Homo sapiens: one gene and its partners. The protein of the gene in region 1 purifies or fractionates together with the protein of each later gene. This does not show direct contact. Each region holds a gene or a part of one and is shown in the gene's direction. Other genes may lie near its edges. The genes, in order: NSRP1, CCNT1, TOX4, CDK11B, TMEM106B, DDX42 and EPB41L2.

Region 1 (4,160 bases):
CCCAGCTACTTGGGAGGCTGAGGCAGGAGAATGGCGTGAACACAGGAGGCGGAGGTTGCAGTGAGCTGAGATTGCGCCACTGCACTCCAGCTTGGGTGACAGTGCAAGACTCTGTCTCAAAAAATAATAATAATAAATAAATAATAAAATTAAGTAAATAAAATTTAAAGTTTTGATCACAGCGGCCACATTTCATATACTCAGTTGCCATATTTGGCTGGTGGTTGCCATACTGGGGACAGCTCACATATGAACATTACCATTTCTTGAGGCATTTCTATTAATGCTGGTCTAGAAGGTAAAGGATTAGAGGATTTTTGAATAAAGTTATAAGGTATTATAGGAATGGTGAGATGATTATGCCATAATTATGTAGCTGAAGGTAAAAGAGTCTGTCCTAAGCAAAAAAAAAAAAATTTTTTTTAACAGGAATGTTCTGGGTAGATCTGAGTCTGTGTTGCTAAGGAAGGGAAGAGGTAGGAGAATAGAATTAAGGTGAGGAGAGGAAGTTTATGCCCCACTCCCTCCCTACGCTGCTAGGCTTTGATTATAAAATTGGTGAGAAGTATGAACCTAAGAAAATGTATTTGAAGATTCAGGTTTTGAATGGAAATTATATTACGTTATATCTTTGTATTAGAGTTTCATCTGGAATATTTATTAGGCTGCCATGAAACTCTGTAATGTCGTTGACATAGTTGTACTTCTTAGAGTCTAATAATCGAATTCCTAACTGTTAGTGGGTCCTTTAGCCAAGATAGTTCTGCCAGTAATTCCTGGAGAACCAAAGTTGTTGCACCATTAGTGTGATTAGTAAGTGATTAGTAAGAATCACTGAGTGGTTCTTATTTACATTATACTCATACTATAAAGTTAACTGTACTTGCCAGCTGGAACAATGAAGGTAATATAATTTTAGTATTGTTGATTCTAATGGACAAATTAATATATTTCCATTTTGTTGTGATAGGTGCCAAGGAGTGAATCAGGATACACTCATGAGAGAGAGTAAATATTTAGGATTATATTTGCCACTATTTTGCTGTGCAAAGATTATCTTCATGTATTTCTAGGACTATTTTTATAATTTTTTAAAAAGAAAAAGGCCAAGCATGGTGGCTCACACCTGTAATCCCCGCACTTTGGGAGGCCAGGGTGGTTGGATCACCTGAGGTCAAGAGTTTGAGACCAGCTTGGCCAACATGGCAAAACCCTGTCTCTACTAAAAATACAAAAATTAGCTGGGCATGGTGGTGCAGGCCTGTAATCCCAACTACTCGGGAAGCTAAGGTGAGAGGATCACTTGAGCCTGGGAGGCAGAGGTTGCAGTGAACCGAGATTGTGCCACTGCACTCCAGCCTGGGTAACAGAATGTCTCAAAATAAATAAATAAGAAAGGAAACAACAAATCCAACAGTCACAACTTAAGCTTCATGTTGTGAAAATAGAACTTAGATTCAGAACATTTATTACTTTTCCCAATTATTCTTTGTCTTAGGCTTACCAAAAAATGAAGACCTGTACAGACCCTTGCCTGTAGGTTCTAGTAGTATAGTAGACAAGGGCTAATTTTCTCTTTTCACTTCTACAAATATTGAAAATATTCTGAATGGTATGAATTTGAAAATACTAGTTTGCATAGACATCAGGACCTTTTTGCATTTGGATAATCAGACAGTATATATCACTATAGGTGTATTGATTTGAGTATTGATAAAAATTATATGAACCCTTCATTTGCTTATTACAACTGATAATGTGGCATTTTTTTCTGCCCTTTTTTGTTTTTTGTTTCTAAGATCTGGTATAAAGGAAGAAAAATCAAGGGGCTTCTCCAATGAAGTAAGTTCAAAAAACAGAATACCACAAGAGAAATGCATTCTTCAAACTGATGTGAAAGTAGAGGAAAACCCAGATGCAGACAGTGACTTCGATGCTAAGAGCAGTGCGGATGATGAAATAGAAGAAACTAGAGTGAACTGCAGAAGGGAAAAGGTCATAGAGACCCCTGAGAATGACTTCAAGCACCACAGGAGTCAAAACCACTCTCGGTCACCTAGTGAAGAAAGAGGGCACAGTACCAGGCACCACACGAAAGGATCACGAACGTCGAGAGGACATGAGAAAAGGGAAGATCAGCACCAGCAGAAGCAATCCAGAGACCAAGAGAACCATTACACTGACCGTGATTACCGGAAAGAAAGGGATTCTCATAGGCACAGAGAGGCCAGTCATAGAGATTCCCATTGGAAGAGGCATGAACAGGAAGATAAACCAAGGGCGAGGGACCAAAGAGAAAGAAGTGACAGAGTATGGAAAAGGGAGAAAGATAGGGAGAAATATTCCCAAAGAGAACAAGAAAGAGATAGACAACAAAATGATCAGAACCGACCCAGTGAGAAAGGAGAGAAGGAAGAGAAAAGCAAAGCAAAGGAAGAGCATATGAAAGTAAGGAAGGAAAGATATGAAAATAATGATAAATACAGAGATAGAGAAAAACGAGAGGTAGGTGTTCAGTCTTCAGAAAGAAATCAAGACAGAAAGGAAAGCAGCCCAAATTCTAGGGCAAAGGATAAATTTCTTGACCAAGAAAGATCCAACAAAATGAGAAACATGGCAAAGGACAAAGAAAGAAACCAAGAGAAACCCTCTAATTCTGAATCATCACTGGGAGCAAAACACAGACTCACAGAGGAAGGGCAAGAGAAGGGTAAAGAACAAGAGAGACCACCTGAGGCAGTGAGCAAGTTTGCAAAGCGGAACAATGAAGAAACTGTAATGTCAGCTAGAGACAGGTACTTGGCCAGGCAGATGGCGCGGGTTAATGCAAAGACCTATATTGAGAAAGAAGATGATTGATGGCTACCCCAAGAGAAAGATTTAAGGAAGCACAGAAAACTGTAATTCCTGGAACCTGCTGCGTAAAACCATAAAGGAGTGTGTTACCAGTAGTTTGGAGGGCATTTTTAAATTTATTTTCAAAATTTTAAGTTAAAAGTCAGTCTTACAGCTTGGATGTTTGGATGTGGATGTTTGGCTGAATTTATATATAGTGTGTACTCATCAATACCACATTCTTTGTTGTATTCAAGAACCGTTAAGAGTGTGCTAATTCCCTGTAGGTACATAATGAGGAAAATTTGCTCCACTACAACCATTAAAAAATAATTTTGGCCAGATACGGTAGCTCGTGCCTGTAATACCAACATTTTGGGAGGCCAAGGCAGAAGGATATTGAGGCTAGGCATTCAAGACCAGCCTAGGCAGGATAATAAGACCTTGTCTCTATTTAAAAAACAAAAAGCCTAGCATGGTAGTCCATGCCTGTAGTCCCAGCTGTTCGAGAGGCTGAGGCAAGAAGATCACTTGAGCCTAGGAATTTGATGTTACAGTGAGGTATGATCATGCCACTGCACTCCAACCTGGGCAACAGAATGAGACCCTGTCTCTAAAAAATTTTTTTTAAATAAATAATTTAACTCTTCTAATAATGTTTTGTTGCAGGAAATGTATTTCAGATAAAATATGGATTTGAAAAACAGAAAATATACTTTATGTTCTGAAATTTGTATTTAAGTATAAAATGTGAATCATCTTGTCTAAATAGCTTACAGCATAGTTGGCTTAAATGAAAATAAAATGATATGCTTATACATTTTATTTATGCATTTATTTTAAAATAATTTTACTCATGTCACAATTCATCTTTTCGCTTTTAGTAGAAATTAATTTGTAATTCTGAAACCTTGACAAGTTAGTAAATTGGTTATATATGTAAATCACTTTTAGTTAAAGGTGAAGCTGTGGAGACATTAGCCTAAATGAAATTAGCTAAAGATCTAGGTGGCCTGTTTCTAAACATGTCTTGTTTCACCTACTCTGAAAAAGATAGTGCAGTTTATTACAAGTTCCACTTGTGTATAAAAATAAAACTAGTATCTTTCTTCTGAGTCTTTGAAACTCAGGAGAAATAATTATACACTGTAAATATTTTATTTATGGGGAAAGATGAATGCTGTGGAGAAAATAGTTCTCTACTAGGTCTTCCCATTAAGAAAATGCTGTTCATATATCTCACAATACTCTACCTAAAGAGCACACTTTCTTATTTTTAGAAGGATAAACTTGGTTTAATAAGAATGCTGACTAGATGAAATATA
Region 2 (3,500 bases), on another chromosome or scaffold:
CTCTTGACCTTGTGATCCGCCCGCCTTGGCCTCCCAAAGTGCTGGGATTACAGGTGTGAGCCACTGCACCCGGCCACCCTGAGCTTCTTTTCCTGCAACTAGATGGTCCCATCTACGGGTGATGGGAGACAGTGACAGATCATCAGGCATTAGATTCTCATAAAGAGCAGGTGATCATTTCACCTCAGCCTCCCAAGTTGCTAGGACTATAGCTGCGTGCCACCACTCCCAGTTAATTTTTATTTTTTTGTAGAGATAGGGGTCTTACCATGTTACCCAGGCTGGTCTTGAACTCTTGGCCTTCAAAGAATCCTCCCATACTGGCCTCCCAAAGTGTTAGAATTCCAGGTGTGAGCAACCATGCCTAGCTACATTTTTTTTTTCTTTTTTTGAGATGGAGTCTCGCTCTGTCACCCAGGCCGGAGTGCCGTGGTGCGATCTCAGCTCACTGCAACCTCCACCTCCCAGGTTCAAGAAATTCTCTGCCTCAGCCTCCTGAATAGCTGGGATTACTACCTGCATTCACTCTATGGAACAAGCCAAGGTTCACGCCCACCATCACACCCAGCTAATTTTTTAGTATTTTTAATAGAGACAGGGTTTCACCATATTGGCCAGGCTGATCTTGAACTCCTGACCTCGTGATACACCTGCTTTGGCCTCCCTAAGTGCTGGGATTACTGGCGTGAGCCACCGCACCCGGCCCATTCTTTATTTTTTAACTGTCTAAAAAATCCAGTGTATTTTATGGTTATAGCACGTTTCAATTTAGCTACATTTCAAGTGATGAATGGCTACATGTGGCTAGTGGCTATAGCTTTGGCTGGCACAAATCTGAGTGAATTTTCTTATTACCTTTTCCTTTGAACTCTTCTGTTACTTTTTAGAAACCTAACATGGCCCCAAAGGGGAAGTTCTAATAGGAGCCAAATGTTTGGTATTAAATGCTTACAGTACTGTAGGAAGGTTCTGCAAATGTATTTTGGTGATGTTGAAAAATATATACTTTATGGCCAGGCGCGGTGGCTCATGCCTGTAATCCTAGCAATTTGGGAGGCTGAGGCGGGTGGATCACCTGAGGTCAGGGGTTCAAGACCAGCTTTGCCAATATGGTGAAACCCCGTCTCTACTAAATATACAAAAACTAGCCGGGCGTGGTGGTGGGCTCCTGTAATCCCACCTACTCGGGAGGCTGAGGCAGGAGAATCGCTTGAACCTGGGAGGCAGAGGTTGCAGTGAGGCGAGGTCGCGCCACTGCACTCCAGCCTGAGCAGCAGAGCGAGACTCCCTCTCAAAAAAAAAGGCCGGGTGCGGTGGCTCACGCCTGTAATCCCAGCACTTTGGGAGGCCGAGGTGGGCGGATCATCTGAGGTTGGGGGTTTGAGACCAGCCTGACCAACATGGAGAAACCTCGTCTCTACTAAAAATACAAAATTAGCTGGGTGTGGTGGTGCATGCCTGTAATCCCAGCTACTCGGGAGGCTGAGGCAGGAGAATTGTTTGAACCGGGAGGCAGAGGTTGTGGTGAGCCGAGATTGTGCCATTGCACTCCAGCCTGGGCAACAAGAGCGAAACTCCAACTCAAAAAAAAAAGAAAAAAGAAAAGCAAAAAATACATACTTTTAATTTTCTTTTCTCTAAATCACATGAACCATAAAACTTAAATATTAACCTGAAAATGAACCAAATATATGGTGCTTTTTCTGTAGCCATATATAAACTGTTACCTCTCAGCATACTACTTATTTATTTATTTTTTAAAGAAAATGTGTACTGAATGGGCATAAGGGATAAAGATTGTATTTCACAAAAAAATTAGCCGGGCGTGGTGTTGCGCGCCTGGAATCTTAGCTACTTGGGAGGCTGAGGCAGGGGAATTGCTTGAACCAGGGAGGTGGAGGTTGCAGTGAGTCGAGATCACACCACTGCACTCCAGCCTGGGTGACAGAGGGAGACTCTGTCTAAAAAAAAAAAAAAAAAAAAAAAAAAAGATTGTATTTCAGTTCTTAACTCTACCTCCTAACTCCACTCATGCCTTTTATTGTTTTGGTTTCCCTGGAAGGGATTGTTAGAATTGTTTATACTTTATATATTGTGCCTTTGTAGGGAATAATTTCTGTCTTCTCACTTTTAGGCTTATTTGCAACAAGTTCAAGATCTGGTCATTTTAGAAAGCATAATTTTGCAGACTTTAGGTAAGTTTATTTTCCTTTGAAACATTTTTTTAAATTATGCAATAAAATGATTTGATTCTAAAAATTTGCTATATAGGAAGAATATTTCTTGGGAAAGTTTTTGTAGTGTCCCTCTGTTTCCAGATGATAGAGGTTGTAGACCTGAGTTTAGCTTTGACCTGTTCCATAGAGTGAATGCAGGTAGTACAGCTGACCTTTGAAACAGCAGCCAGTGGGTTATTATTTTTTTCATTCTAGGGTTATTTGCTTTTTAAGTTTTGGTGATTTTTACCCCCAAAAATTATAAAAACTATCTAAAGAATGTTTTTCCTTCCGTGGATTGTTATGGCCTGTAACAGCATTTGTTTTTAAAATTGGTAACTAGTGTTTAGAACAGCAGAGTGAAAGTGGGGGAACTTAAGCTTTAGTGGTTGCATGGGCAACTCTGATGATATTGTGTTATTATCTGTTATTTTCATCACACAGGCTGCCTTTAGAAGTTTAGAAAATATGAAAATACAGATTTTTTTTTTCCTGGTTCTTTTGGGCTATCATTTTTCTCTTCTAGGTAGGGTAAGATTTCATGAGTTGTACGTCAAAGTTATTGGCGTAGACACAATTTTTTTTGTACATATATATATATGATGAGTTCTTCAAAGTTTATCTCTCAATTTATTCTAGTTAACTTTTTTCTTTTTCTTTTTTTTTTTTTTTTGAGACGGAGTCTTGCTTTGTCGCCCAGGCTGGAGTGCAGTGGCACAATCTTGGCTCATTGCAACCTCCGCCTCCTGGGTGCACGCCATTCTCCTGCCTCAGCCTCCAGAGTAGCTGGGACTACAGGCGCCCGCCACCACGCCCAGCTAAATTTTTGTATTTTTAGTAGAGATAGGGTTTCACCGTGTTAGCCAGGATGGTCTTGATCTCCTGACCTTGTGATCCGCTCGCCTCGGCCTCCCAAAGTGCTGGGATTACAGGCTTGATCCACCGCGCCCAGCCTCTAGTTAACTTTTTTCTTAAAATATCTTCAAATTATATTTCATGGGACAATGATGTTTTTCTGGTGGAATAAATTTCTATTAATATTTTAGTGTGGAAACCAGTAAGGTGTAATTTACAATCAGTTATCCTTTTACAATAATTTGTAAAATGTAAACTTCTTAATAGTTTTTTAATCCATTACTTTTTCTTTTAAGGCTTTGAACTAACAATTGATCACCCACATACTCATGTAGTAAAGTGCACTCAACTTGTTCGAGGTAAGGAATCCCAGCTTATGAAGACTATCTCAAGCTGTTTTCCCATTTAGAGGTTGTGGTTTGTGGTGGA
Region 3 (3,500 bases), on another chromosome or scaffold:
TGTTCAATTTTTAGATATTTAACTTTTCTAAGTCTCATTTTTTCCCCCATTTATAAAATTAGGCTATTACTTGATAAGCTGCATGCTGTGGCTAACTCTCAAATCCACTACCAAGTTTGGATTTAGAATTACTTGTTTGTTTGTTTTTGAGATGGAATTTCGCTCCTGTTACCCAGGCTGCAGTGCAGTGGTGCAATCTCAGCTTACTGCAACTTCCACCTCCTGGGTTCAAGTGATTCTCCTGCCTCAGCCTCCCAAGTAGCTGGGATTACCGGCATGTGCCGCCACACCCAGCTAATGTTGTATTTTTAGTAGAGACAGGGTTTCACCGTGTTGGTCAGGCTGGTGCCAAACTCCTGACCTCAGGTGATCCGCCTGCCTTGTCCTCCCAACGTGCTGGGATTACAGGTGTGAGCCACCGCACCTGGCCTATTTTTTTTCTTTCTTTTTCTTTTTTGGATTTAGAGTTTAAAAACTTTTTAGAGCTAGCCCAGATTCAAAGGAGGGGGAAATAGGCTTCAGCTCTTGAAGGGAGAAAGGTCATATGGGAGGAGTTGTTGTGGCCATCTTTGCAAACAATTTACCACATTCCATAAGGGAAAATATACTGGTTAGACACAGTCCCAGGCTAAGACACAGTTTTTGGATTAGGGTTTATTTTGTATTTATTTATTTATTTTTTTGAGACAGAGTCTCACTGTGTCGCCCAGGCTGGAGTGCAGTAGCACAATCTTGGTTGACTGCAAGCTCTATCTCCCAGGTTCACGCCATTCTCCTGCCTCAGCCTCCTGAGTAGCTGGACTATAGGCGCCCATCACCACGCCGGGCTAGTTTTGTTTTTGTTTTTTTTAGTAGAGATCGGGTTTCACCAGGTTAGCCAGGATGGTCTCAATCTCCTGACCTCGTGATCTGGCCACCTTGGCCTCCCAAAGTGCTGGGATTACAGGCGTGAGCCACCGCACCTGGCAGATTAGGGTTTATTTTTGTTACAGAAGTGAGCATGGGTTGATGTTTGCCTTAAATGTAGCTATTCTCGGCCAGGCGTGGTGGCTCACGCCTGTAATCCCAGCACTTTGGGAGGCAGAGGCAGGCGGATCACAAGGTCAGGAGATCGAGACCATCCTGGCTAACACAGCGAAACCCCATCTCTACTAAAAATACAAAAAATTAGCCGGGCGTGGTGGCGGGTGCCTATAGTCCCAGCTACTCAGGAGGCTGAAGCAGGAGAATGGCATGAACCTGGGAGGCAGAGCTTGCAATGAGCCAAGATCACGCCACTGCACTCGAGCCTGGGCGAGAGAGCACGACTCTGTCTCAAAAAAAATTTAAAAAAAATAAAATAAATGTAGCAAAATAAAATAAATGTAGCTATTCTTGCCAGACTCCTGTCGATTGGTTGTCTTTCAGAGGTATGCTCAGTGGAGTGAGTCTGCCATGGAGGTTGTCTTGACTGTTAGCTTTCAGAATTGAATTCACTGATAGAGGTTGTCAGTGATTAGACTAAGATGAATTGTCATTCATTGATAAATAATACAGAACTATCAGTCTTTCCTAAGAGTATGGGGAGTTTTGTTTTTTTTTTTAAAGTCTCTTTTTTGCAGGTATATAAGAGGAAAACTGAGGCTGCCAAGAAAGAGTATCTGAAGGCACTGGCTGCTTACAAAGACAACCAGGAGTGTCAGGTAAGAGGGATAGGATAGAATGAATATTTAAACCAGTAAGAAGTTTTTTGGAAGTGTTTGTTAGCAGTTTTAAGAAGTAAATACCACCAAGTGATTGATTAATTGATAGATTGATTTATGTCTTCTTTTAGGCCACTGTGGAAACAGTGGAATTGGATCCAGCACCACCATCACAAACTCCTTCTCCACCTCCTATGGCTACTGTTGACCCAGCATCTCCAGCACCAGCTTCAATAGAGCCCCCTGCCCTGTCCCCATCCATTGTTGTTAACTCCACCCTTTCATCCTATGTGGCAAACCAGGCATCTTCTGGAGCTGGGGGTCAGCCCAATATCACCAAGTTGATTATTACCAAACAAATGTTGCCCTCTTCTATTACTATGTCTCAAGGAGGGATGGTTACTGTTATCCCAGCCACAGTGGTGACCTCCCGGGGGCTCCAACTAGGCCAAACCAGTACAGCTACTATCCAGCCCAGTCAACAAGCCCAGATTGTCACTCGGTCAGTGTTGCAGGCAGCAGCAGCTGCTGCTGCTGCTGCTTCTATGCAACTGCCTCCACCCCGACTACAGCCCCCTCCATTACAACAGATGCCACAGCCCCCGACTCAGCAGCAAGTTACCATTCTGCAGCAGCCTCCTCCACTCCAGGCCATGCAACAGCCTCCACCTCAGAAAGTTCGAATCAATTTACAGCAACAGCCTCCTCCTCTGCAGATCAAGAGTGTGCCTCTACCCACTTTGAAAATGCAGACTACCTTAGTCCCACCAACTGTGGAAAGTAGTCCTGAGCGGCCTATGAACAACAGCCCTGAGGCCCATACAGTGGAGGCACCTTCTCCTGAGACTATCTGTGAGATGATCACAGATGTAGTTCCTGAGGTGAGCCTTTGTTTTTAAGTCTTTAGTCTAGTGGAAATGTATAAAAATGTTTTTGGTTGACCCAATAACAGTGGGGGTTGCTACTAGCATTTAATGCCCAGCAACCAGGAGCACAAAACATCCTGCAGATGGGAGTTCCTTGCAGCAGTTGACTTCTCTTACCCAAGGTACTCATACTGTTTTTTTTTTGTTTGTTTGTTTTTGAGATGGAGTTTCACTCATTGCCCAGGCTGGAGTGCAATGGTGCGATCTCGGCTCACTGCAACCTCTACCTCCTGGGTTCAAGAGATTCTCCTGCCTCAGCCTCCCGAGTGGCTGGGATTACAGGCATGTGCCACCATGTCCGGCTAATTTTGTATTTTTAGTAGAGACGGTTTCTCCATGTTGGTCAGGCTGGTCTCGAACTCCTGATCTCAGGTGATCTGCCTGCCTCGGCCTCCCAAAGTGCTGGGATTACAGGTGTGAGCCACTGCACCCGCCCTGTTTTGTTTTGTTTTGTTTTGTTTTTCTTGAGACGGAGTCTCGCTCTGTTGCCTGGGCTGGAGTGCAGTGGTGTAATCTTGGCTCACTGCAATCTCCACCTCCTAGTTCAAGTGATTCTCCTGCCTCAGCCTCCCGAGTAGCTGGGATTACAGGCGCCCACCACTACACCCAGCTAATTTTTTGTATTTTTATTAGAGACAGAGTTTCACCATGTTCATTGGGCTGGTCTTGAACTCCTGACCTCGTGATTCGCCCGCTTCGGCCTCCCAGAGTGCAGGGATTACAGGCGTGAGCCACCGTGTGCCCCATAGTGTTTTTAGTGAGATACATTAAGACAGTCTTCTGCCCCAGACCACTCCTTAACTAAGCAGAGGTCACTAGTTCAACTGGACAGGATATAGCCTAAACAGTTATTATTCAGAGTTGTTACCCAAGGATCCTAAACTTTGGACAT
Region 4 (4,027 bases), on another chromosome or scaffold:
AAGAGCTTGGGTACACAAAGCAAGCAGCATTTCATTCCGGGATGAAAAAAATTCCGATACCCATCGCCCTTCTTGGGCCCTTGTCAGTTTCTTGCCACATCTTTCATTTTCCCATTTCAGGCCCAGTAAATGCGGATGTTTATCTTCCATTGTTTGTTTCCTGAGATTCAGATGTCTAAAGCATTTTTCTGTGACTTTTCAAGTCAAGAGGAAAACCTGACATATGGAAAGGGAATTAATTGCTCGTTTTATCCTCTTCTCCTGCAATGCTCTGAATCCATGGGTTTGGAGTGGGGCCCTGGGAGTTGGGGGAAGCACCATACCCAGTGAGTCTGCACTTTGAGGACCCACTGCCAGTGTCAGCTTCAAAATCACATTGTAAAAGGCCGGGCGCGGTGGCTCACGCCTGTAATCCCAGCACTTTAGGAGGACGAAGCGGGCGGATCACTTGAGGTCAGGAGTTCGAGACCAGCCTGGCCAATATGGCGAAACCTCGTCTCTACCAAAAATATAAAAATTAGCCGGGCGTGGTGGCGCGGGCCTGTGGTTCCAGCTACTCGGGAGGCTGAGGCAGGAAAATTCCTTGAACCCGGGAGGAGGCTGCAGTGAGCCAAGACCACGCCACTGCACTCCAACCTGGGCGGCAGAGCAAGGCTCCGACTCAAAAGTAAATACATGAATAAATAAAATAAAATCACATCGTAAGAGCTCTCCCTGCCCTGTTTCTGAGTAAGGTTCAGAGTTAAATTCCGAGATCGGCCTTTACAAGACACACAGACCTGAGGCGCCTCACGAGGTAACCAGCAGGTAAATGGAGCGCGCTCCACCCACCCGCCACTAGGGGTCCCAGCGGTCAAGGGGGTGGAATGCGGGCGTCCATCGCGAAGGCATTCTGCTCGCAAGCCTTGGCACAGGCGCGGGCTTCGCTACCGGAAAAGTCCCGGTAGGATTCCGGAAGCCGGCCACGCGTTCCGCGCAGGCGCAAACTGCTCCAAAAGTGGGCGTCGCTCCTCCGGAGTCCCGATTCCTGCGTCACAGCCCGCGCCGAAGTCGGAAGTGCGCTCACCGGGCTGTTTCTTCTGGCGTCCTGGACCTGAGCAAGCGCTGTTTTATGCGTTATCATCCCGCGCAGACACAGGAAGTGCCGCACAGAGCGAGCCCCTGTCGTTGTCTCGAGTTCTGGGCCGGAGGTCGGCTATTATATCATCATTACGCGCCAATACAGGAAGTGACGATACTTTTGGCGCGCGCCGGTTGCTGTTTCTTCTCTGGCTCCGGGACCGGCGGCGGCGGCGGCGGCAGCGGCGGCGGCGTAGGGGTGAGTTCCGACTGGGCGGACCAGGTGTGGGAGCGCGAGGAGAACTGCGCACCGAGGTCTTTCTTCCGAGCAGGCCTCGGAGCGGGGCGGACCCGGGCCCGGGGGCGAGCGACACCCTCGCTTCCGCGGACAGTCTCATCCCGCACGGAACTTTGGGTGGTGGAGGCGGCGGGTCCAAACGCTGTCTGGAGCCAACGTCTGCCAGGCTGAACCTCAAGTGTGCGGGACTGAACCCGAGGAAATAGCCCAGTGCCCGGGTCAGGTGGCCTTGTTCGCGAGCACATCTCGGAGCATCTCCCCGGTCTCAAGGTGCAGCTGTCCAGTGTGCTAGTGGCTTCACGTAGTCCAAGCGGTCTTTCTAGCAGATTCTGACAGTAAAAGCAGTGTTTGATGAGTGGCAGGTCCTGAGTTAAGAGCCTTTAAACGGATGATCTTTAATCCGCGATCGATACTATCACGTAGGTGTTGTTATTCTGGTTGTACGGAAGACTAAACTGAGGTGAATTACGTTACCCAAGACCATACAAGAATGACAGAAACGAGACTTGATTTCAAGCGGTCATTTTTCAGAACCCATCACTCTTTTTTGTCGCCCATGCTGCAGCGCAGTGGCTGTTCACAAGCGCACTTCAGCCTGGAACTCCTGGGCTCAATCGGTCTCCCATCTCAGCTTGCAGAGTATATGGGACTACAGGCGCTCGCCACCTTGCCTGGCTTACAACTTATCATTCTTGTTTTTTTTTCTTTTTTTTTTGAGACGGGGTCTTGCTGGAGTGCAGTGACGCGACCTCGGCTCACCGGAACCTCCGCCTTTCGGATTCAAGCGATTCTGCTGCCTCGGCCTCCCGAGTAGCTGGGATTACAGGCACCCGCCACCACGCCCAGCTAAGTTTTGTATTTTTAGTGGAGACAGGGTTTTCGCCGTGTTGGCCAGGCTGGTCTTGACCTCCTGACCTTGTGATCCACCCGCCTCAGCCTAGAGCTTACTTTTTTTTTTTTTTTTTTTTTTTTAACCAAGTCTTACTTTGTTATCTAGGCTGGAGTGCAGTGGCGCAGTCTTGGCTCATTGCAGCCTTGACCTCTCTGATTCAAGTGATCCTCCTGCCTCTAGCAGCCTCCTTCCTGTAGCTAGGAATACAGGCACGCGCCACCACACTGGGCTAACTTTTGTATTTTTTGTAGAGACGAGGTTTTGCCATGTTGCCCGGGCTGGTGTTGAACTCCGGAACTCCAGCGATCTGCTCGCCTCGGCCTCCCAAAGTGCTAGGGTTACCGTCTTGAGCCACTGCGCCGGGCACAACTTCTTATTCTTAATGAGGATTTATTCTGAATCCCTCAAAAGTGACTAGGTTCAAGTGTTCAGCACCATAGCTTGCTGTGTCCTGATGTAGGCTGAATTATTTTTCTTTTTGCAGTGTTTTAACTCAAATGGGTGATGAAAAGGACTCTTGGAAAGTGAAAACTTTAGATGAAATTCTTCAGGAAAAGAAACGAAGGAAGGAACAAGAGGAGAAAGCAGAGATAAAACGCTTAAAAAATGTAAGCCATATTTTTTAAGTAAGTGGTTTTCTTAAAGGAGATTTAATTTCTTTGCCCTCATTTTTCCATTAGAACAACGCTTCTTCGGTGAAGTTCTTTTGTACTTCCAAATGTCGCAGGTGAGCCCAAAATCTATTCTAAAAATTAACAAAAACATTCAAATATTCAGTTGACATTAAAGGCAGATTTAACACACTAAAGCTGTGTCTAGATTGAGCATACATGGAGAATAAAATACGTTGAATGTTAAGTCATTAGCAAAACTGGACTAATTTTTCTCGGTTCATTAGTATGTTCATAATACTATCTCTAAGTATTTTTAATATAGTGGGAACTTGCCTTGAAATTAATATAAATATTTTACATCTTTCTTGGTTTGCATGGTAATGTACTCAGGAAACCTTTTTAGTAATTTGGTAAGAGGCATTGGCAAAGTACCTCTTTTGCTAAGATCTTTAGCAGCATCATTTGGGATGTTAGTGAGTACAGGCATACCTTGTTGTATTGCACTTCACTTTATTATGCTTCACAGATATTGAAATTTTTCCAAATTAAAGGTTTGTAGCAACTCTGCATTGAGCATTTTTCCAATAGCATGTGCTCACTTTGTTAGCTTTTTTTTTGTTTTTGAGACGGAGTCTCGCACTGTCGCCCAGGGCCGGGTTCACGCCATTCTCCTGCCTCAGCCTCCCAAGTAGCTGGGACTACAGGGGCCCACCAACATGCCAAGCTAATTTTTTGTATTTTTTAGTAGAGATGGGGTCTCACGGTGTCAGCCAGGATGATCTTAATCTCCTGACCTCATGATCCACCCACCTCGGCCTCCCAAAGTGCTGGGATTACAACAGGCATGAGCCTCCGCGCCCGGCCTTTTTTGTTTGTTTTTGAGACAGTCTTGCTCCATTGCCCAGGCTGGAGTGCAGTGGCATGATCTCAGCTAACTGCCACCTCTGCCTCCTGTGTTCAAGCAGTTCTCCTGTCTCAGCCTCCTGAGTACCTGGGACTACAGGCACCTGCCAGCACGCTCGGCTAATTTTTATATTTTTAGTAGAGACGAGCTTTCACCTTGTTGGTCAGGCTGGTCTGGAACTCCTGACCTCAGGTGATTCACCTGCCTCACCCAGCCTCCCAAAGTGCTGGGATTACAGGCGTGAGCCACCATGCCTGACC
Region 5 (3,500 bases), on another chromosome or scaffold:
AAGAATAGTATGAAAATATTAGATACCACATAAATTGTTTGAAATTACTGAATAACCATCTTAAGTATGGAACATTTAAATGGCTATATTTTATTTGTGTACAGTTTTTCTGTGCCTTGTTAGGCCAGTGAAGCAATTATTTTCTCTAAGAAAATGACAATAAAATATAACACACTTCAGATTGTCTGATTTACAGTTTGGAAAGGACACCGCAATGTTCAAATAGGTAGGAGACCATCAAAAACACAATTAAAGTAACATATTAGGAGACTTGAAACTTCAGCCTAATAAATCCTTCATGGTTCTTAGCCTTATTATTGTGATATAATTCTAGATATTTTCTTGGAGGGCATGTGCCCAACTCTCCCGCACCCCATTTTGTTTGTCTTTTAAAGTTCTTAGAATAAACAGTTCTTTATATAATAATTATATTTTATTTAAGAAAATAGTTTGTTAGGTACTTTTTAAAAGATGTAAATTTTTAAATTTACAAATACATATGGGTCTTTGATAAGCAATAGGAATTGAATTACAAGTTACTAGGGTTATAAGCAAAAGGTTGCTTACCATAATGTCATTAGGTCACGATTTTTAGCTCACATCTGGAAGCAGCAACTACTTGGCTCAAGTACATATAAGAGTAATTAGTTTTATTCTCTCTTTTTTATAAAATCGGGTTTCAGATGAGATGTTTATCTTAGACTATTTTAGGGAAAAATTTTACATGTTTGAGATGGTGGAGTAAAAAGACTGTTAAACATTTCTTTTAAAAAATTATTTTTACATTACAACAATATATTTATGATGTGTTCAGATCAAAAATTTAACTTCTGTGTCCCAGATCTACTTTCAAAGTGAGATTTTCACTTGTCAGCTTAAATTTCTGACTAGAACTAACATTTGTGTATTTTTGTGCTTAGTCGGAATACAAATTTCACAGTGGATTTTTGAAGTTTGTCCTTAAATTGGATAAAATCAAGTGATTAAAGTTACTAAAGAGATAAAAATGGTAATTTCCATTTTTAAAAGTAATTTGGTTGTGTTTATAGTTATTTGTACAAGTATTTATCACAGACTCTAAATTGAAAAATGTAGTATGATCTATATTTGACCCTAAAAATGTTGGATTAATTTAACAAATATGGCAGATTTTTCATAACTAAGTCTTAAGTCTTCTAAAAGGAAGCTGTTACCCTTCTGTTTTTAATTACATTAATTGAAATGTGTTTTAAGAGATACAATTTCAGCATATTTTATATATTAAAAAACAAAAAAGGATTAGTATTGAGCCAGTGGCCAAAAGGTAATATTACTACCATGTAGACTGTTATAGTTCAAATTGTCCCACTTCACCCAGAATTTTAGAAACTAGAAGTCTGGGAGGTACTATATCAGCTGTAGTTGGGTAATTCCAAGTGCTGATAGTACTATTCATCTTTTTTATTATTGTGTCAGATGAAACAAATGCCAAGTTGCAAAATATGCAGATTTTTATTATATAATGGTTTTAGGCATAAATTATTAACAAGCCATGCCTTATGTGTTTCATCTTATATTTTTCTTTAGAACTAAACTATAACAGATTTTGGAAAATGATTTGACGTGCTTGCTCACTTGATTGACTTGGTCAGATATTTGAATGATGGTATTACCTAGATTCTAATCCTTGATTCTAGTTATATAATAAATAATATAGAATATGAAAATATGTTTGGGCATTTACTGTTTATATTATGTAGTAGCCTCCATCATGACACACTTACTACATTTATGAATTGAGCAGTTCTGTAATTGTAATTATTATTGCTGTTCATGTAACAAAACATGCTTATAATAGCAAACAAATAGAAATGCCCCCAAAATGCTATTTTTTTAATTCAGTTATAACTGTTACTCTTGTAGTTGTGTATGACGCAATAAAATTTGTAAAAAAATTTCAGCATGAAAAATAAAATTTGTATCACTTATGTATTTTGGCTATGCTTTTGAAATTTCCTTAACATAAACAAATCAGTGTAGATATTCAAAATCTTTTACCTTTAATCCTTTTCATCCTTATAGTCCTTACCTGAACTCTACTTTAGCATTATCTTTGATTTCTTTTTTTCATTCACTTAACTTCCAATCAGTACTCAAGCTTTATCCATTCTACCTCTGTAATGTCTCTGGAATTTATCTCATACGTGAAATTTCCCTTGATATTATAGACATACCTTGGATATATTGCAGGTTTGGTTCCACACCATATCGATAAAGTGATATAATCAAGCAAGTTACACACCTTTTTTTGGTTTCCCAGTGCATATGAAAGTTATGTTTACATCATACTGTAGTCTATTAAGTGTGCAATAGCATTATGTCGAAAAACACAATATATATGCCTTAATAAAAAATAGGCTGTGTGCAGTGGCTCACACCTGTAATCCCAGCACTTTCGGAGGCCAAGGTGGGAGGATCACCTGAGCCCAGAAGTTCAAGACCAAATTGGTCAACATGGCGAGACCCCATATAAAATATATACATACACACACACACACACACACACACACACACACACACACACTATTGCTAAAAAATGTTAACGATCATCTGAATGTTCAGAAGTTTATACTCCTTTTGCCGGCACAGGATCTTGTCTGGATGTTGTTTGCTGATAGATCCATGTAGTGGTTACTAAAGTTGGGGTGGCTATGGCAATTTCTTAAGACAACAATGAAGTTTATCACATCTATTGCCTTGTCCTTTCATGAAAGATGTCTCTAGCATGTGATGCTGTTTTGATAGCATTTTACCAATGGTAGGTCTTTTTTCAAAATTGGAGCCAGTCCTCTCAAACCCTGCCTCTGCTTTATCGACCATGTTTAAATAATTTTCTAAATTCTTTATTGTCATTTCAGCAGTGGTCTCAGCATCTTCACCAGGAGTAGATTCCAACTCAAGAAACCACTTTCTTAGCTCATTCATAAGAAACAATTCCTCATCTGTTCAAGTTTTGGCATCAAGTTGTAGCAATTCAGTCACATCTACAGACTCCATTGCTAAATTTTAGTTCTCTTGCTATTTCCACATCTGCTGTGACTTCCTTCACTGAAGTCATGAACCCCTCAAAATTATCCATGAGAGTTGAAATCAATTTCTTTCAAACTCCTGTTAATGTTCATATTTAGACCTCTTCCCCTGAATCACAAATGTTGTTAATGGCATCTAGAATGGCAAATCCTTTCTGGAAGGTTTCAATTTACTTTGCCCAGATCCATCAGAGGAATCACTACCTATGACAGCTATGGTCTTACAAAATGTATTTCTTATATAGTAAGATTCAAAAGTCAAATTTACTCCCTGATCCATGGCTGCAGAATGCACGTTGTGTTAAGAGGCATGAAAACAACATTAATCTATTTGTACATCATCAGAGCTGTTGGGTGACCAGGTACATTGTCAATGAGTAGTAATACTTTGAAAGGAATTTTTTTTTCCAAGCAGGTCTCAACAATGGGCTT
Region 6 (3,500 bases), about 34 Mb from region 1:
ATACCTTTATGAATAAAATCGTGGTTTTAAAGTATGTTCTAGGTTTCGATTTTTTATGACATCACATTCTGTTTTTCAGAACTTCGTTTGGGTTGTGACAGGTATTTGTTAGTGTCACAGTTTGTTAATATATTATTCACAACTTTGTAGATCCATGCAGAATGTAAGCGGTTTGGAAAAGCATATAATCTTCGATCAGTGGCCGTATATGGAGGAGGGAGTATGTGGGAGCAGGCCAAGGCCCTTCAGGAGGGGGCAGAGATTGTTGTGTGTACCCCAGTAAGTATGCCTTGTGTTTAAATGGCTTCTCAGCCTCCCTCGGTATGGAAAACATGATTAGTTTTGCAGAGAATTTCCCCTAAAGTGTGGTAAAAGCAGGGTTGAAAATATACTGATGAACGGCAGGCTGTGGTTTTAATTTTGATTGGTGGCTAAATTAGCAGTTCAGTGAGAGTCTCTGTGACATATAGGCTAGTAGCTACAAATTCCCCTCTATGTCAAATAGTTTTTCTTATACTCTCCCACAAAATGATTGCCAAGTTCATCAAGAATCAGAAAGATACATATGGTCAGAATAGCCTAGAAGAGTGTAGTTTAAACATTGAAACCTGTCATTATGCTTTAAATCAGGTCACTTTAGAATGCCTCAAAAACTGCTTCTGGCCACTTTCCCACAGAATTTAAATCACAGTGTAAATGAAGATGCCGATTGAGTTTTCAAAATTTCTGTTCCTTTGAGCTAAGTAGTGCATAAGGTATGTGGCTGTTGGACCAGTATCTATTACAGTCTGAGACTAGAGAATTAGCACTTTTGCCAGGAGTGCAACTGCTTAGAAAGTCCCTGTGAATGCCTTTAATTATACTTACTGTTCATTTTGTTGATCTTATAGGGTCGACTGATAGATCATGTGAAAAAGAAAGCTACCAATCTTCAAAGAGTCTCTTACCTTGTGTTTGATGAAGCAGATCGAATGTTTGACATGGGATTTGGTATGCCTTGAATACCAGTTTCTTCTGTCCCCATCCTCATGATACTAGTTTTTTTTCCATGTCTTTCTAGACTGTTTTTTCAGCATGAGAGAAGCTAAAAATACTCCTGGATGGGGTTAGACTATAGAAATATAGCTAAGATGAACATTTTTAGGAGTTTTCTCTGGAAAAGTATGTTAGGTTTTATTGGGTTGAGGAAATTTCAAAGTGCCTTTGTATATAAGGGGAATATTTTCTCTGTCTTCATTTTTATCCATATGCCTTTGATCATAGAGGTTAAGGTCTGTGTTCTTGGGTAGATGAATGTCAGATCATTCGAGGCCCTTTGCTTTCCTATCCTCGTAGCTGTCTTTACTGATTGGAACACTGCTAGACCTAGCCCAGTTGGATGGAGGGAAAATTTTTCACTTTTATGCTGAATGATATGTTTAGGAGCTTCTTTTTTCTTGAGACAGAGTTTTGCTTTTGTTGCCCAGGCTGCAGTGCAGCGGTGCGATCTCACTGCAACTTCCTCCTTCCAGTTTCAAGCGATTCTTCTGCCTCAGCCTCCTGAGTAGTTGGGGTGATAGGCACCTACCCCACAGCCTGGCTATTTTTTTTTTTTTTTTTTTTTGGTATTTTTAGTAGAGATAGCTGTGTTGACCAGGCTGCGAACTCCTGACCTCAAGTGATCCGCCTGCTTCGGCCTCCGAAAGTGCTAGGATTACAGGCATGAGCCACTGTGCCTGGCCTGGGGTTTCTAATTTTCTTAATTCTTACAACTTCTTATGAAGACTTTTACTAATATGGCTTTTTCCAGGCTTCCCAAACTGTATTTCAGGTTATAATAATTTTATTGTTCTGTTTCTTGCAGAGTACCAAGTTCGATCCATAGCAAGTCATGTTCGTCCTGACAGGCAGAGTATGTATGAAGCACCTTTGTTAAACCAAATTTGTACTAAAAAGGGCACTTATTTATTTTATAAGCACTCAGAGTTATGGAAGTAAAAATGATCTTGTGTCTGTTGGTGAGAACCATAATAAGGGAGGTAATGAGTTTATCTGAGCTGGACAGGATCTTAGCACTAGATATAACTTGTTCCTTTTTATAGATGATAAAACCAAGGATCAGAAATTAAATAAACTGCCCTAAATTATACAGTTTTATCAGTGGGTAGAAGCAGTGTACAGTACAGATCTGCTGATTTGAAATCAAGAGTCTTTTTCTGAACCATACTGACAACTTGTCTTAACTAAAAATGTAATAAAAATAGAATAAGAGCAAATCTTTCCCTAGTGAATCAGTTTCTAAACTAAATTTAAAGTTCAGGTGAGCTTATGTAAAAAAACTGAATAATCCTGAATGCCAAAGAAGCTTAATGGGTATGCATAAAGATATCATATTGTTTCTCTAACAGAATTTATCTTACCTTTTAGCTCTCTTATTTAGTGCAACTTTTCGGAAGAAGATTGAAAAGTTGGCCAGAGACATCCTGATCGACCCTATTCGAGTGGTGCAGGGAGATATTGGAGAGGTAACCCTAAGCAGGGCTGGATGGGACCTTAATGGGTTTATTTCTCATATTATGGAACACAGAATTAATTTCTCACTATTGAGATAAAAAAAAAAGATGTTATGTTTATAGATGCAACATGCTTGAGATTGGGTATTTTGCAAGTTGTGGGGATAGACGTAACAAGACTGGCAAAATGTTGGGAATCATTGAAGCTAGGTGATGGGTATGAGTTGATTTTGTTCATTTTGTGTTTTTTTTGTTTTATTGAATGTCTCAAAACTTACAATTGTTTTAAAAAGGCTTCAAAGAGACAAAAAGATGTGCCTGGAAGCATCAGCGTATTAGGTTGGAACTGACGTTTTAATTATTGTGGTAGGGGCCTACGCAGGAGGGAAAGGGTGACCTGGAAGGCCTGGAAAAAATCAGGTTTCATTTCTTACCTGTACATATGCGCTATGTGAAAAATTACTCTGAATTGGGACTTGGAATTCAGTTATGGCTGCTTAGAGAATCCTTCAGTTGCTTGCCATGGTTATTGTTAAGGAAAGCTCTACAAAGTAGTGGGGCATACAAATTAGGTATGTACACCAGGTGGAGAGCAAGGTGATTGGAAAGGAGAGGTGAGTTTTGAGCTGCACTTGACTTGCTGAAGGCCCAAGGAGAACTGGGATTGTTCAAGGTCTTCTCGATGCAGGTAGAAATATAATGCCTAGTCCTTGTTCAGGTGCCCTGTGGCTCCAATGTCACAATCATCTGTTTCATTTCTTCCTTCTCAGGCAAATGAAGATGTGACACAGATTGTGGAGATTCTCCATTCTGGACCTAGTAAATGGAACTGGCTTACCCGGCGTCTGGTAGAATTTACCTCTTCAGGGAGTGTCCTCCTCTTTGTTACTAAAAAAGCCAATGCTGAAGAGCTAGCGAATAACCTTAAACAGGAGGGTCATAATCTTGGGCTGCTCCATGGGGATATGGATCAGAGTGAGAGAAACAAGGTCATTTCAGACTTTAAGA
Region 7 (3,500 bases), on another chromosome or scaffold:
TCTTTTATTTCTTTTGTTTGTTTTAGGTTGTTTGCTTTTACTCTTTTCTTTTGTGCATGAGTGTGTGTTTGGATATGTTTCTTACTATTATTTGTGAAGGTTCCATTAAACACTTTTACTTTATTACCTCTAGAATTTATTTTTCCCTTCCTTTTCCACCTCAGCCACCAGTGGTAAAAACAGAGATGGTAACAATTTCTGATGCCTCACAAAGGACAGAAATCTCCACCAAGGAAGTCCCCATTGTCCAAACTGAGACCAAAACCATCACATATGAGTCTCCACAGGTACAAAAGCTCTAGACTTGGACTGTTCGAGCTCTTTTTTCCCTTAGTGTATCTATGTTTTCATTCTTTCTTCTCTTAGTTTACATGTTTCTGGCTTTGATGTAGCTTTTTGTATCTGCACTTTGTAAGTGTACTTCAACAACATAATTTGCTATGTTCTCTTAGATTGAGACAGAGAGCTGCAATTAAATTGGTAACCCAGTAATTATAGGGGAACTGTACATATGATTATTTAGGACAGACAGTATCAATCTTGTTCATATGATTGAAAGCCATTTCTGAGTTGACATATCTAAGAATGTTTGTGTACACTTAGGAAACAAATTGTCTTGCAAAGTTTATCTGATATAATTCATCGATTAATAATAATCCGATCTAATTGTGGATGTGATTTAGGCTTCTTTCCCTCTCTAACTCCGTGAAGATTGACCCAATCAACTCATTCTTGCTTGTAATAACACACATACACACACACACACACACAAACACACACAGGCACACACACCTGTGCTTCTCCTTCGTGTGGAATTATTTTCTAAAGACCTATGTAGTCATTCATATGTGAATGGTGATACCATGTGTCTAAATAATTATCAGATTTGTGTGTTTGATTTTAGGTTTTCACACATTGGTTCTGTAAAGATTTGGAATAAGCATTAAGATGTTTAACCTTAAGAATAACAAAAAAAGATAAAGCATTCATGATTTCAAAATAGAATATAAAATAAATATTTTCTCCACTTAGAAGATGAACCTTCTGTGGTAGAATTGTATCATGGTGGAGGATGTCAGGTTATTGACCTCTCAGAATATTTTTTAAAAGGTTTAATGCATGCATGTGTGAAACACATCTGAAAATTATTTTGGATATGGCATCCTTGTGTGTGCCTTGATCCCACATAAGCACAAATAGGTTTCTTATGAACAGCTTGGCGGGGGAGCATTAGTGATGTGTCTGTGCTGTGATAAGTTGCCAGAATGAAGACATACAGGTGCATGACCCAAGTTTGAAAGAGATTTCCTCTTACAGTCAGAAAGGCTCTGGACCGTCCAGTTATTTCCTCGTGTCAGTGTCAGGAAACAGAGGGCAAATATGTTTCGTGATCTTAACATAAACTGTTAGGCTATTAATTTGCTTCATTGATTCCCCTTGGAAACTCTAGAATCTTCTGCATCTTTCAATATCAAAGCAAACAAGTTAAAATCTATTTTAACATATGTATGGGATTTATATATATGTAGGAGCACATGCGTATGTGCAGTATTGAAATATATGTGCCCGTATATATGCTCACAACATGCAAACTATTACAGGAACAATGTAGTTGATGAAAACAATCGCTAGAGGTAAGCAGATAACCAAATCATGCAGATTCAGTTTGTCCTGGTCAGGTTCTGTTGCTTGGTAATTTGATAAAATGTTTATCTATTTTTACCCACCTGTGCTTAAAAAACAACAAACTCAGCGCTTCTGGTCACTGTGGAAACTTCTCTGCCTGGCTCTCTAGTTTCATTTTCTAGCTTGTGCAAAAGTCCTTCAGACAAATTCTGTCATAATTCCCTTGTAGCTTTCAGTCCCACCTACTATGTCCATTCTCCTCTCTTTTCTCCACTCACACAGTTGAGTTTGCTTCTCCATGTGCACCTAGCCTTTTGCCTCTACTCGGTTTCAAATACCAGCCGCTCTCCTGGATGGTAATTACTACTGCAAACACGCAAACCACATGGATTTTAAAAGATGCATATTCGATGGGGCGGGGATCTTCTCTGACAACATAACAGAAGTTAAGCATTACTTTGTATTTTTCCCCCAACTATCCAAAGATTGATGGCGGGGCTGGTGGTGATTCGGGCACGTTACTGACCGCACAAACCATCACATCTGAGTCCGTGTCAACAACGACAACCACACACATCACCAAGGTAAAGCAATGCAGGGGATCATATGGAGAGGATGGTACATTACAGACAGAATCTTTTCTGAATTGTTTCTCTCTTCCTGTACACACTTCCAAGTAAGATACAGACAGTGCCAGCGGAATCAAAATGCCTTGGTTTAAAGTATCCAAGAAATTAGGCTCCATTGACAAATGCATTCAAGCCAAATTGCAATTTTGTGAAGTACAAGGGGGTAAAAATATGTTACGAATAGCTATATGTAAGATAGCTACAAAACCATAAATAATTTAATAAAATTTATAATTTATAAAAACAAACTTGTGCTTCTACTTTTATTAAACCAGCCCTCCTGACTAAAGCGAATGAATGAAGGCCATCATTCAGAATTTTCAGCAAGTTGTTCAAATAATGTAGAATTTCCCTCATTTAAGATCGCTAGTATACTGATTTGGGGCATTCCCCTGTTCCTCCCTGCATAATTCTCTAAATGTTTAGCACTGGGTAACCAGTCATCCCTGGATCAGCAGCATCAGCTTCACCCGGGGCATTGTTAGAAGTATAAATAGCGTGGCCCCACTCCAGTCCTCCTGAAACCTTAGAATTGTCTTAAGAAGCTTCCAGTGATTCTGATGCATGCTGAAGTCATCAGCTTTCTAACTCCAGCCTTATTTTCCACTATTTCCTTCTTCTGTTTTTTACTTTGGATAAGTGTCTAAAGGTCTTAAAGGTGTCCCTTGTGCCCTTCCCAACCCATGTTTCAACAACAATTTAAAAAACAGCAAAAGTAATTTGTAAATTTAAAAATGCCGCATAAATGCAAGGTACTGTTGGTGCTCATTTTAAAGCATATCCAGTTATTAAGCATAGTGATAAGCCTGGTTTGTTATGGTAAAATGCTGTCACTTGTGACTGAGAGTGTACATTTATCAGAGTTGTAAATGTTGGATGTGCGCTTTCCCAGGACCGTGTGGTATTTGCTTATTGACTGTTTAGAAGGTCACAGCCAGATGATCTCCTCAGCCTCATCCAGTGTGCCCCAGGCACTCGCAGCTTGTACGGAGCCCATAACGCTGTGAGGCAGTTCCCCCAGGAGCTCCCTCCTCCAGCCCCGCTCGCAGCCTTTGTCTAGCCATGCGCCATGTCTACGTGTATGACTACTTACGCAGGGTGTCATCAAATCAAACATTCAACAAAAATCTCATCCATCTTCCGTATCTGAAACCAAAGCAAATCCTTTTTAAAATTATTGCACTAAATGCAATAAACAAAATCAGCAAATAAATTTGTATGCTCAGAATCCATCAGTCAAAACCA

What was found.
Region 2: the proteins of NSRP1 (region 1) and CCNT1 purify together in Homo sapiens (affinity purification with mass spectrometry; one large-scale study listed by BioGRID and IntAct). This does not show direct contact.
Region 3: the proteins of NSRP1 (region 1) and TOX4 purify together in Homo sapiens (affinity purification with mass spectrometry, with the first as the bait; one large-scale study listed by BioGRID). This does not show direct contact.
Region 4: the proteins of NSRP1 (region 1) and CDK11B purify together in Homo sapiens (affinity purification with mass spectrometry, with the first as the bait; one large-scale study listed by BioGRID). This does not show direct contact.
Region 5: the proteins of NSRP1 (region 1) and TMEM106B fractionate together in Homo sapiens (co-fractionation; one large-scale study listed by BioGRID). This does not show direct contact.
Region 6: the proteins of NSRP1 (region 1) and DDX42 purify together in Homo sapiens (affinity purification with mass spectrometry, with the first as the bait; one large-scale study listed by BioGRID). This does not show direct contact.
Region 7: the proteins of NSRP1 (region 1) and EPB41L2 purify together in Homo sapiens (affinity purification with mass spectrometry, with the first as the bait; one large-scale study listed by BioGRID). This does not show direct contact.

The regions. Positions count from the first base shown.
Region 1 is NC_000017.11:30,182,816-30,186,975, forward strand, and holds the end of NSRP1 (nuclear speckle splicing regulatory protein 1), read left to right. Parts: intron 1-1,799; coding exon 1,800-2,859; 3' UTR 2,860-3,660; downstream 3,661-4,160. UniProt on the Homo sapiens protein: RNA-binding protein that mediates pre-mRNA alternative splicing regulation.
Region 2 is NC_000012.12:48,699,708-48,703,207, reverse strand, and holds part of CCNT1 (cyclin-T1), read left to right. Parts: intron 1-2,134; coding exon 2,135-2,195; intron 2,196-3,367; coding exon 3,368-3,430; intron 3,431-3,500. UniProt on the Homo sapiens protein: Regulatory subunit of the cyclin-dependent kinase pair (CDK9/cyclin-T1) complex, also called positive transcription elongation factor B (P-TEFb), which facilitates the transition from abortive to productive elongation by phosphorylating the CTD (C-terminal domain) of the large subunit of RNA polymerase II (RNA Pol II).
Region 3 is NC_000014.9:21,490,695-21,494,194, forward strand, and holds part of TOX4 (TOX high mobility group box family member 4), read left to right. Parts: intron 1-1,601; coding exon 1,602-1,682; intron 1,683-1,813; coding exon 1,814-2,563; intron 2,564-3,500. UniProt on the Homo sapiens protein: Transcription factor that modulates cell fate reprogramming from the somatic state to the pluripotent and neuronal fate. In liver, controls the expression of hormone-regulated gluconeogenic genes such as G6PC1 and PCK1.
Region 4 is NC_000001.11:1,656,205-1,660,231, reverse strand, and holds the start of CDK11B (cyclin-dependent kinase 11B), read left to right. Parts: upstream 1-1,227; 5' UTR 1,228-1,318; exon of another isoform or gene 1,319-1,776; intron 1,777-2,733; 5' UTR 2,734-2,746; coding exon 2,747-2,857; intron 2,858-2,929; exon of another isoform or gene 2,930-2,967; coding exon of another isoform or gene 2,968-2,976; intron 2,977-4,027. UniProt on the Homo sapiens protein: Plays multiple roles in cell cycle progression, cytokinesis and apoptosis. Involved in pre-mRNA splicing in a kinase activity-dependent manner. Isoform 7 may act as a negative regulator of normal cell cycle progression.
Region 5 is NC_000007.14:12,235,294-12,238,793, forward strand, and holds part of TMEM106B (transmembrane protein 106B), read left to right. Parts: 3' UTR 1-3,500. UniProt on the Homo sapiens protein: In neurons, involved in the transport of late endosomes/lysosomes. May be involved in dendrite morphogenesis and maintenance by regulating lysosomal trafficking.
Region 6 is NC_000017.11:63,808,670-63,812,169, forward strand, and holds part of DDX42 (ATP-dependent RNA helicase DDX42), read left to right. Parts: intron 1-150; coding exon 151-279; intron 280-890; coding exon 891-990; intron 991-1,843; coding exon 1,844-1,891; intron 1,892-2,406; coding exon 2,407-2,504; intron 2,505-3,262; coding exon 3,263-3,500. UniProt on the Homo sapiens protein: ATP-dependent RNA helicase that binds to partially double-stranded RNAs (dsRNAs) in order to unwind RNA secondary structures. Unwinding is promoted in the presence of single-strand binding proteins.
Region 7 is NC_000006.12:130,864,246-130,867,745, reverse strand, and holds part of EPB41L2 (band 4.1-like protein 2), read left to right. Parts: intron 1-164; coding exon 165-287; intron 288-2,111; coding exon 2,112-2,210; intron 2,211-3,500. UniProt on the Homo sapiens protein: Required for dynein-dynactin complex and NUMA1 recruitment at the mitotic cell cortex during anaphase.